Regions from separate parts of the Homo sapiens genome. Here region 2 is linked to region 1. The links come from fine-mapping of genetic effects on gene expression. A gene starts in region 1. The other region holds a variant in brackets. All regions are shown on one strand. Distances are from middle to middle.

What was found. PIP is the estimated chance that this variant, and not a neighbour inherited with it, causes the effect.
Region 2: its variant is the best candidate, but not a certain one, in a credible set for the expression of TTC39B in whole blood (INTERVAL, PIP 0.56).

The regions. Positions count from the first base shown.
Region 1 is chr9:15,305,011-15,309,276 of GRCh38, forward strand. It overlaps TTC39B (tetratricopeptide repeat domain 39B), which reads right to left and starts at 2,206. Exons shown (of 20, transcript NM_152574.3): 1 at 2,074-2,206. The coding sequence starts at 2,115. RefSeq lists enhancers at 844-1,407, 1,971-2,533 and silencers at 1,771-2,090, 2,121-2,460.
Region 2 is chr9:15,166,868-15,171,398 of GRCh38, forward strand. It overlaps TTC39B (tetratricopeptide repeat domain 39B), which reads right to left. Exons shown (of 20, transcript NM_152574.3): 20 at 1-4,531. Among named protein-coding and RNA genes, the nearest start is that of TTC39B, 140 kb to the right of the region's middle. The variant C/T (reference allele first, on the strand shown) is at 1,805.

The sequences.
Region 1 (4,266 bases):
ATATCAAATAAAGACTATCAGACTCTTCTTAAATACGTGAAAAGCTTCCTAGCTGAAATAAGCTATTTGCGCACCCAGTAAAATTGAAGAGCAGGGTCTTATGAACTCGAGGTTAGAGTTCTTCAAGCCCATTTACGGTAAGGGACTTTCTACAAATAAATCAAGGGTATCCAGTCTACAACACACTACTTCTTACTTGCTTACATTTACTTGAGCTCCTTTTTAGAGTTCTTGTACCCAGGTCATATCTCCCTAATCAGACTGAGAACCATAAAGAGGCAAAACTATGCCTTCTCTAAGGCACCTACCAAGTTTGAGCCCAAAGTAAATGCTCAATAAACGCTTGCTCAGTTTATAGCAATGGAAGTGGTAAACTGTGAGGGACAAAAGTAAATTTGGCATGAACAAAGAATTCAATTTGTATTTTGCTCATCAACTAGGACTAGTACAGTACCTAGCATGTAACAGAAGCCTAATAGTTAATGAATGAAGAAAAATAAATGAATGATATGGCAAAAACTGAGTTGTTATTAAGCAACATCTTTTCTGCAGTCTTTCATTCATTCAACAAATATTTATTTACCAAGTATCTGTGTGCCAGGCTCTCTGCTACTCTGAAACCTAACTTCCACCCAGAGTTTCACCCACAGAAACCTAACTTCCCTCCTCATCGGCTAATGCATCTCAACCGTTCATCTAGTAGGCAGTGAGCATAGCTGGGGTGACCATTTGTCAAAGTATCTCCGAAACAGTCCCAGTTTACACCTATTATCCCAGTGTTAATTAATAATAGCACCGCCTCAACAATGCCCTAATCTAGAGAATTACATAGTTCTAAGCACAGCAAATCTCCTACAAACAGATCGGGATTCAAATATTTCATTCTACAGTCTTGGGATCCTCAATGCAAGGGACAGGCTGTAAGCAAGGGTCTGGACAGCCCGGCTTGCCCTCTTGTCTCTCTGTCATGCAGAGGAGCTGTAGTTCAGTTTTTGTTTTTTGTTTATTTTACGGAGCACATTTAAAGTATAGTCTTCCTTGTCAGGAGATTCCTGGCACTAAAGAGATGGACGGGAAACTTAACCGCCTCCTCCAGATCGTCCACTATTGCATCATTTGAAACCAAAGCCTTCTAAAGGCAGCGACTCGCACAATTCAAGTCAGGTAAGATGGCAGGAACAGCAGCTGTGGGTGCTGGCTGCTGCTGGAGCCTCGGTCTCAACTTCAAGAGCAGGGAGAGCGCTGTCTCTGGAGTTGCCAGGTGCTGAAATGAATAGTCAATAAATCAACAGGTCCGGCGCGCTAGCCCCTGGGTGCTCAGGCCCGGGCGCGCCACGACTGAAGGAGTGGCTAATTACTCAAACACAGTTGAAACCAAAGGAGGCCGGAGTCGGTTCTCAAAGTGGTTTCCCTCCGGCCACCACCGACTCTGAGGACCTGCTAGGGGAAGTGTCCCGGCCCCGTGGAGGGAGAGGGAAGCACCACAGCCTGGGCTGCGGCTCTAGCCCTCCAGCCCCAGCCCCTGGCAGCCCTGCCCTGCTGTCGCGGCAGGTACCCCTCTACTCATTGTTCCTCAGGCTGCCCCCTCTTTTCATCAATCGTAAGCCTTTCGGTTCTGCCACCAGGAAACTTCCATAGAAGGTGAGATTCCCAGGTCGAGGGATGATTCCACGAACACCCAGAGAGCCAGTGCCAGGACTTCAGGGTCAGACTTCGTAAAGCCCAGGCGTCGCTGGGCCGGCCCGGAACAGCTCAGAGCTGCGGGTCCTATGGTCCCGCGCCCTCACGCCCATCCAAGTGCTGGCAGGACGTGGGTCCTCCATCCCCACGACTCGCGGGGCCGGCGCTCCGAACCTCGGCACTGCGTCCGCTCCGCGCGCCGCAGGGACCCTCCTAGCTCCAGCGGGGACAGACCTACCAAGGCCGGGCGCCCCCACCCGGCGCCCGCCAGCCCACCCCAGAGAGGGGACCAAGGGGGCGGGGCCTCGGCCGTCCTAGCCGGGCTCACTCTTCTCTCCCGGACTCCTGTCCAGGGCTTCAGGGGCCGGGCCCGCAATCCCCATCGGATCGTACCTCGTCCGCTTCCAGCTCCGCTCGGCTGCCTAAGAGCGCCATATTCCTCCTCTGGCTGCTGCCACCCAAAAACCAAGCAGGGAACTCAGAGCCGACTCCTGCTCTCGGCTCTGGGCTCAGCCCAGCGCAAAGGAGGGCAAAAGGGGACGGCCCGGCGCTCCCTCCGGGTCTCGGGCGGGGCCTGAGTGCAGCTACTCGATTTCCCCGCCCCCGGAGCCGGCAGGCCAGCACAGCATCCATTTCCTCCCCGGACGCCGCGCCGCTGGCCGGGCCACTTGCCCGGCCCCCAGCGGGCGGCAGCCCCGCCCAAGTGGGTGGAGTCACCTCCCAGATAAAGTTTCCCGGTCTGGCACGCCCTCTGGGAGGGTTTCCTAAGCTTTCCTGCCGCCTGTTCTCTGCGGTGGCTGGGCACACCTGGAAAGAAGCTAGAGAGCGCGGGCATGACGAAGCCAAGGTCAAAGCAGCGCCCCACCTGGGGTCCGTGGAAGCATCCACCTGGTCTTTGGTCCGGTGCCAGTCCTTTTCCCTCGCCAGGTGGCCACCGCATCTCGCAGATGGTGTGGCCTGAGGGCAGCCTTGGGTCACGGTCACTGGTCCCCGAGAGGCCTCTGACACACCACCCACCTGGACTGTAGGTGGAAGGACTCTGCTTGCTTCTGTGTTCAAAAAATAGAAAAAAACGCGGGACAGAGATTTATACATATTGGAACTCCTCTACTTCCCCCTACCCGGACAGTGTATTCTCCCCATAGCATCCTGTATTTTGTAACTCCAAACATAGGTGTATAATTCGTGCTTGAACTATAAACTCCATGGGGGTAGGATGCTATCTGTCCTCTTCAAGACTGTATCCCCAACACCCAGAACAGTGTCTTGCACATCGTAGGTGCTCAACAGATATTTGTTGGCTGAGTTTAGAAACTGAACCTTGCTTCTGACATGTAAAATAACTGGAAAATTAAAAGCTAGATCTTTAAGAGTTTGGGGGAGAGAGGTCAGATTTACTTTACATACAGAAAAATGCACCAAGTTAAATGTGTGATTCAGTGACAAGTGTTTACAAAGCATCCCAGTCATAATATAGAACATCCTGAAAAGTTTTCTGTGACCCTTTGCTGTCAATTTCCTACCTCCGCTCCCTAGCCTCTGTCAATCACTGATCTGCTATCAACATCGATTTGCCTTCTCTAGAATTTCATATAAATTTAATTAGAGCATGTGGTCTTCCATGTCTGGCTCATGAAAGGCTATTTAATAGTCATCCAGTGATAACTGTAAAAACAGCTAATAGTTCTTGAGTCCTTACTATGTGCCAGGACTCTACTGAACCTCTTGCATATAGTATTTCATTTATTCTTCATAACCCCATAAAGTAGGGTGCTGTTCTCTTTCAGATGAGTAAACTGAGGCTCAGAGAGTTCAAGTAATATGCCTGAGGCCAGACAGCAGTTAAGTAAGTAGGGATGCCAGCATCTGAACCCCAGCAGTCTAACTCTAGGGCCTAGCTGATAACCATTGCTTTGTACTGTACTGGCTCTAGCCACCCTCCCTCTCTTTCTTTCTGTGTCAGTAGAGCAGTTGTCTGTGCAAGTCCATTACATACATTTTCAGTGAGTCACTTTGCATCCTTAATACTTGCTGTACAATTTTAATGGCTTGGCATGTACTTTTGTACTAGAATAATAAAATGGTTTCTACAGCAGAAACATTGAAAAAATGGGTTAGATCGTGTGATGGTTGCTCAACTCTCTGAATTGTCTAAAAATCCTTGAATTGTGTACTTACAATAGGTGGAACTTATGATTATGTAAATTATATCTTAGTAAAGCTGTTTTAAAAAAACTAGCTGACACAGGCTAGGTGTGGTGGCTCACGCCTGTATGGGATTACAGCACTGGGAGACTGAGGAAGGAGGCTAACTTGAGTTTAGGAGTTCGAGACTAGCCTGAGCAACATAGCAAGACCCAATTTCTAAATAATAATACTTTTTTTTTTTGAGAGACAGTTTCACTCTCATCTCCCAGGCTGGAGTGCAATGGCTCGATCTTGGCTCACTGCAACCTCCGCCTCCTGGGTTCCCACTAATCTGTAAATTGCTTAGAAGGAGGCACTATCTTATTCATCAGTGCAGGTACTCAATAAAAAAGCTCCAGGTGCAGTGGCTCATGCCTGTAATCCCAACACTTTGGGAGA
Region 2 (4,531 bases), 140 kb before region 1:
ATCTGAAGAGATTTAAAATGTCTTAATTATATATATGCATATCACTTAGGTATCATACACATTCAAAAATAAATTATTCTCTAAATGGGTAACATGTGTCCACAAACCTTTATTTTATATATATATATATATATATATATATATATATATATATATATATATTTTTTTTTTTTTTTTTTTTTTTTTTGAGACAGGGTCTCACTCTGTCACCTGGGGTGGAGTGCAGTGGCATGATCTTAGCTCACTGTAGCCTCAAACTCCTGGGATCAAGCAATTATCCCACCTAAGTCTCCCTAGTAGCTAGGACTACAAGTGCACTCCACCATGCACGGCTCATTTTTTTTTTTTTTTTTTTTTTTGTAAAGACAGGTTCTCACTGTATTGCCCAGGCTGGCCTCAAACCCCTGGTCCCAAGTGACGCCCCCCAACTTTGGCTTCCCAAAGTTTTAGGATTACAGGCGTGAGCCACCATTGCCAGCCTCTAAAAACCTTTAAATAGTAATACTGGCCTAGTTGAGAAAGTCAGTGTTGAAACATTAATAACAAAGCAATGGAAAAGATTCCACTAGATTTCTCAGAATAATTTTATCTTAGAAAATATTGGGCCAGGCATGGTGGCTCACGCCTGTAATCCCAGCACTTTGGGAGGCCAAGGCGGCCAGATCACCTGAAGTTGGGAGTTCGAGACCAGACTGACCAACATGGAGAAACCCCATCTCTACTAAAAATACAAAATTAGCTGGGCATGGTGGCACATGCCTGTAATCCCAGCTACTTGGGAGGCTGAGGCAGGAGAATTGCTTGAACCTGGGAGGCAGAGGTTGCAGTGAGCCTAGATCGTGCAATTGCACTCCAGCCTGGGCAACAAGAGCGAAACTCTGTCTCAAAAAATATATATATTAATCATGAAATCTATCTTCTCAAAGATGTGAATCACTCTTCTATAACTCTAACAACTGTACTTTGTAAAAAAGAATGTCTGTAAAATCAAATTAAAATCATCATCTCAAAAATAAAATTTCTTAATCTAGTACATAAGGAGTTTGGCGGAGGGAGGGCAGAATAATGTTCAAATATGCCAATGACACTGACCATCTGCAGATAAACACGATCAAATGAAAGTTTAAGGGCACTTTAAATAGAAAAAGCAAACTTCACAGATATGTATGTGAAGCACAAATCAGGTGATCATAGTAGACAGCAAGTAAAAGCCAGAACTCCGCAAAGCAGGCTATTGGGAGGCCTTTAAGAAGTGCAGCACGTATGAGTGAATGCTTCCTCAGCATTCAGCACCATTCCCACATGTGCTGTAAGCCATTCCGGGTGCTCCGCAGCCATGTGTGGCGAGGGGCTACTGTACTGGACAGAGCAAGACTGAGGGGAAACAACACGGTTTACAGGCTCATGAGGGCAAGGTAATTTTCTAAGATCCATTCCAGGCCCAAGGAATCACAAAATCTTAGGGTATTAAAACATCACTGGAGTCTTCGTCAACTCATTTTAACTAAATGTATTTGAATTTAAGATTTCTAAATATGCAGAGTATAAATACAAAAAAAAAAAACAGAAATGGAGGGAAATGAATGAAGCATTAGATAATTCCAGAAGATTTTCCAGTTAGCCACAAAGATCTTTTTAAAAATTATTTTTAATGTCCAAGCTGGAGGAAAACCCTCCTATTTATGAAGATCAACAGACTAGACTCACTTTAAAAAGGAGTGGATCACGAGTTCAGGAGATCGAGACCATCCTGGCTAACACGGTGAAACCCCGTCTCTACTCAAAATACAAAAAATTAGCCAGG[C/T]GTGGTGGCGGGCGCCTGTAGTCCCAGCTACTCGGGAGGCTGAGGCAGGAGAATGGCGTGAACCTGGGAGGAGGAGCTTGCAGTGAGCAGAGATTACGCCACTGCACTCCAGCCTGGGTGACAGAGCGAGACTCTGTCTCAATAAAATAATATTAAATTAAAATAAAATAAAAGGAGTGGAAAGTATTAACACCGGGGATTGTTAGTGTCTATCACAACTACCTCTAATAGTAGCTTTGAAAGAGAAAACATTCACTTTTATTTGAAATGGTAGGGGGGGAGCATTTTTTCTTTACACACTCCCTGCTGATTTGAAGCCCTAATAAAAGAATCATAGAGTGACCTCAAAGTTCAACTAGTCTAAGCTTGCAGGACAGGCAGAAATGACAGTCACATTAGCCCTGCTTAAACTCACCCCTTTGCAGAAGAACTGGTTATTGATTTTAGACTGTTGGGTTTTCCGATAATGAAAAATCTTCCTCGGCACTGATTAATCTGGAATTCAGCTTCCTACAGCCTTTATCCACTTGTCTCATTTCTGCCCTCTGAGGATAAAGACAGGATCAATGGACTTAATTTTCCTATATAACTTGGAAACTTCTTGTATCAGGGAGCATAGAAAACATTAACATATATGTCCAGATAAGAGCTGATACAGTTCACCTTTCATTCCTTGTCAGGGGGAAATCATGCCTTCCTTGTCACCATTCCTACAAAGCACAAAGTTACTTAAATTTATACAGCACCAATCAGAACCCTGCCTCTCCATTAAGGAAAAAAAAAAGGCAATTATGCCAGGAACTACATGAATTGCACTGTCAGACACAATGGCAACCCAACCCCATCATAAATGCCCCTCAAAAAACTAGATAAAACTGTCACTTCAGTATTCATTCTTCACAGAACACCCTAATGACTCCAAAATGCAATATTAGCTGATGCCCAAGAAGTTGGTGCCACTACAATATCTTGAACATAGCAGGAAACATAAATATTTGTAGCATTTTGATATTACAGTACTAAAAGATCCACTGGATATACTGTCCATAGTATCAGGTAACTGCATAAAGAATAGGAAACAAAAATAAAACAAAATATAAATAACAAAAAAGATTTTTAAATGGAGATGAATTTCTTTTATATTTGTTTAGTAATGCAGAGTTAAAATAAAAATGGCCACTCTAAGCTTAAAACTGTTTCATTTTATCCCCAAAAGAGAATTTGTTACTGACTTGCAGCACTGACTTGCAGCTTCTCACAGTAACAATGTAAGAATATATGCTCAGTATACCCACAGTCACAATGTGAGTGTGCGCTTTCAAAAATAATGTTACCAAAGCTCTTCTAAGAGCTTTTTTCCAAAAAGCTTTTTTTGGAAAACTTTTTTCCAAAGCTATACACAAATAATTTTTAATGTATTTTCCACTACTAATTATAATGACAGTTAATTTTATTTTCTATTTTGTCTGTACCTAAAGTTGTATTACTAATAACACATTGATATCTACCGCCATTGATATCTATCTTTCATTGGATATACATCCTCAGTGTTGGTCAAGAATCAGTACCTTGAAGAAAACAAGCCACACACTGCTTGATACAGGTCCATGTGGCAGGGAACGGCAGGAGCAGGTTCATATAACCTGGGTAGCCTACTGTCAACATCAAACACATGAATACACAGTAAGGTATTTGAATTTCTACACTTCTTTCATTTTACAACACAAACCACAGTATCAGCCAATACTTTTGTGTTGATACTGTAATCCAGACATAAAAAACCATAATTATTATAATAATTCATACTTTTGTATAGCCTTTTACAGTTTACAAAAAGCTATCATATGTTTTATCTAATTGAGCCCTCACAAGTACCAAATACCACACCGCTATCCATAGTGGGGCAACTGAACCCCTGAAAAGCTGAGCTACGTACTCCGTGTCATGGAACTATTAACCCACAGAGATGAACTCGTGACTCCCAATATGTGGCTCCTTCTGTTAAACTGCAGAGGCTTCTATGACAAGTTATTCTTCAAAATGGAAATAGAAATAAGGCCCAGATTCATCAACTCATAAATTGTCTTTTCTCACTCTGGATGCCACAACACATACATGTGGGGAGTTGGGGGCAATGATGATGATTGAAAAATAAAACACTCCAAGTGGGAATGGTTTGCATTCGACATTTTAAAGTCATTTGTTGAAAATAAATACCTAATACATAGACTCACAGTTATAAAACTGAAAAAGACCTTGAAAGTCATCTGTTCTTTAATCTTGATTTCACAGAAGAAAATGTGGTGACACACAGGGCACAGTGGACTCCCTAAAGGTCTCCTCACTAATCGCTAATGGGTAGCAGAACCAGGACCATATGGAGTGTCAAGCTCTCTTCTGCTCTATGCCCTGATTCTGTTTCCCAACTAAAGGACTAAGCAAGGTCCAGATTATCTACAAGGAGACATCACAGTGCTAGAGAGATTAGAAAACTAGGTCTTACCAACATCTTAAGTGTAAAAATTATTGATATTTTACATATCATTTAAAGCAGCAGGAAATTTACTTCCTAGAAGAAAAATAATCCATGTATGTATTTTAGGCTCTCATTGCTAAGGTTAAGAAAAATTCCTAAAATATGACACTTCCTTCCCTTTAGATACACAGGGGTTTTGAATTTTGTTATTATAATAGACTTAAGTACATTCAAAATCAGTCTCTCCAAAA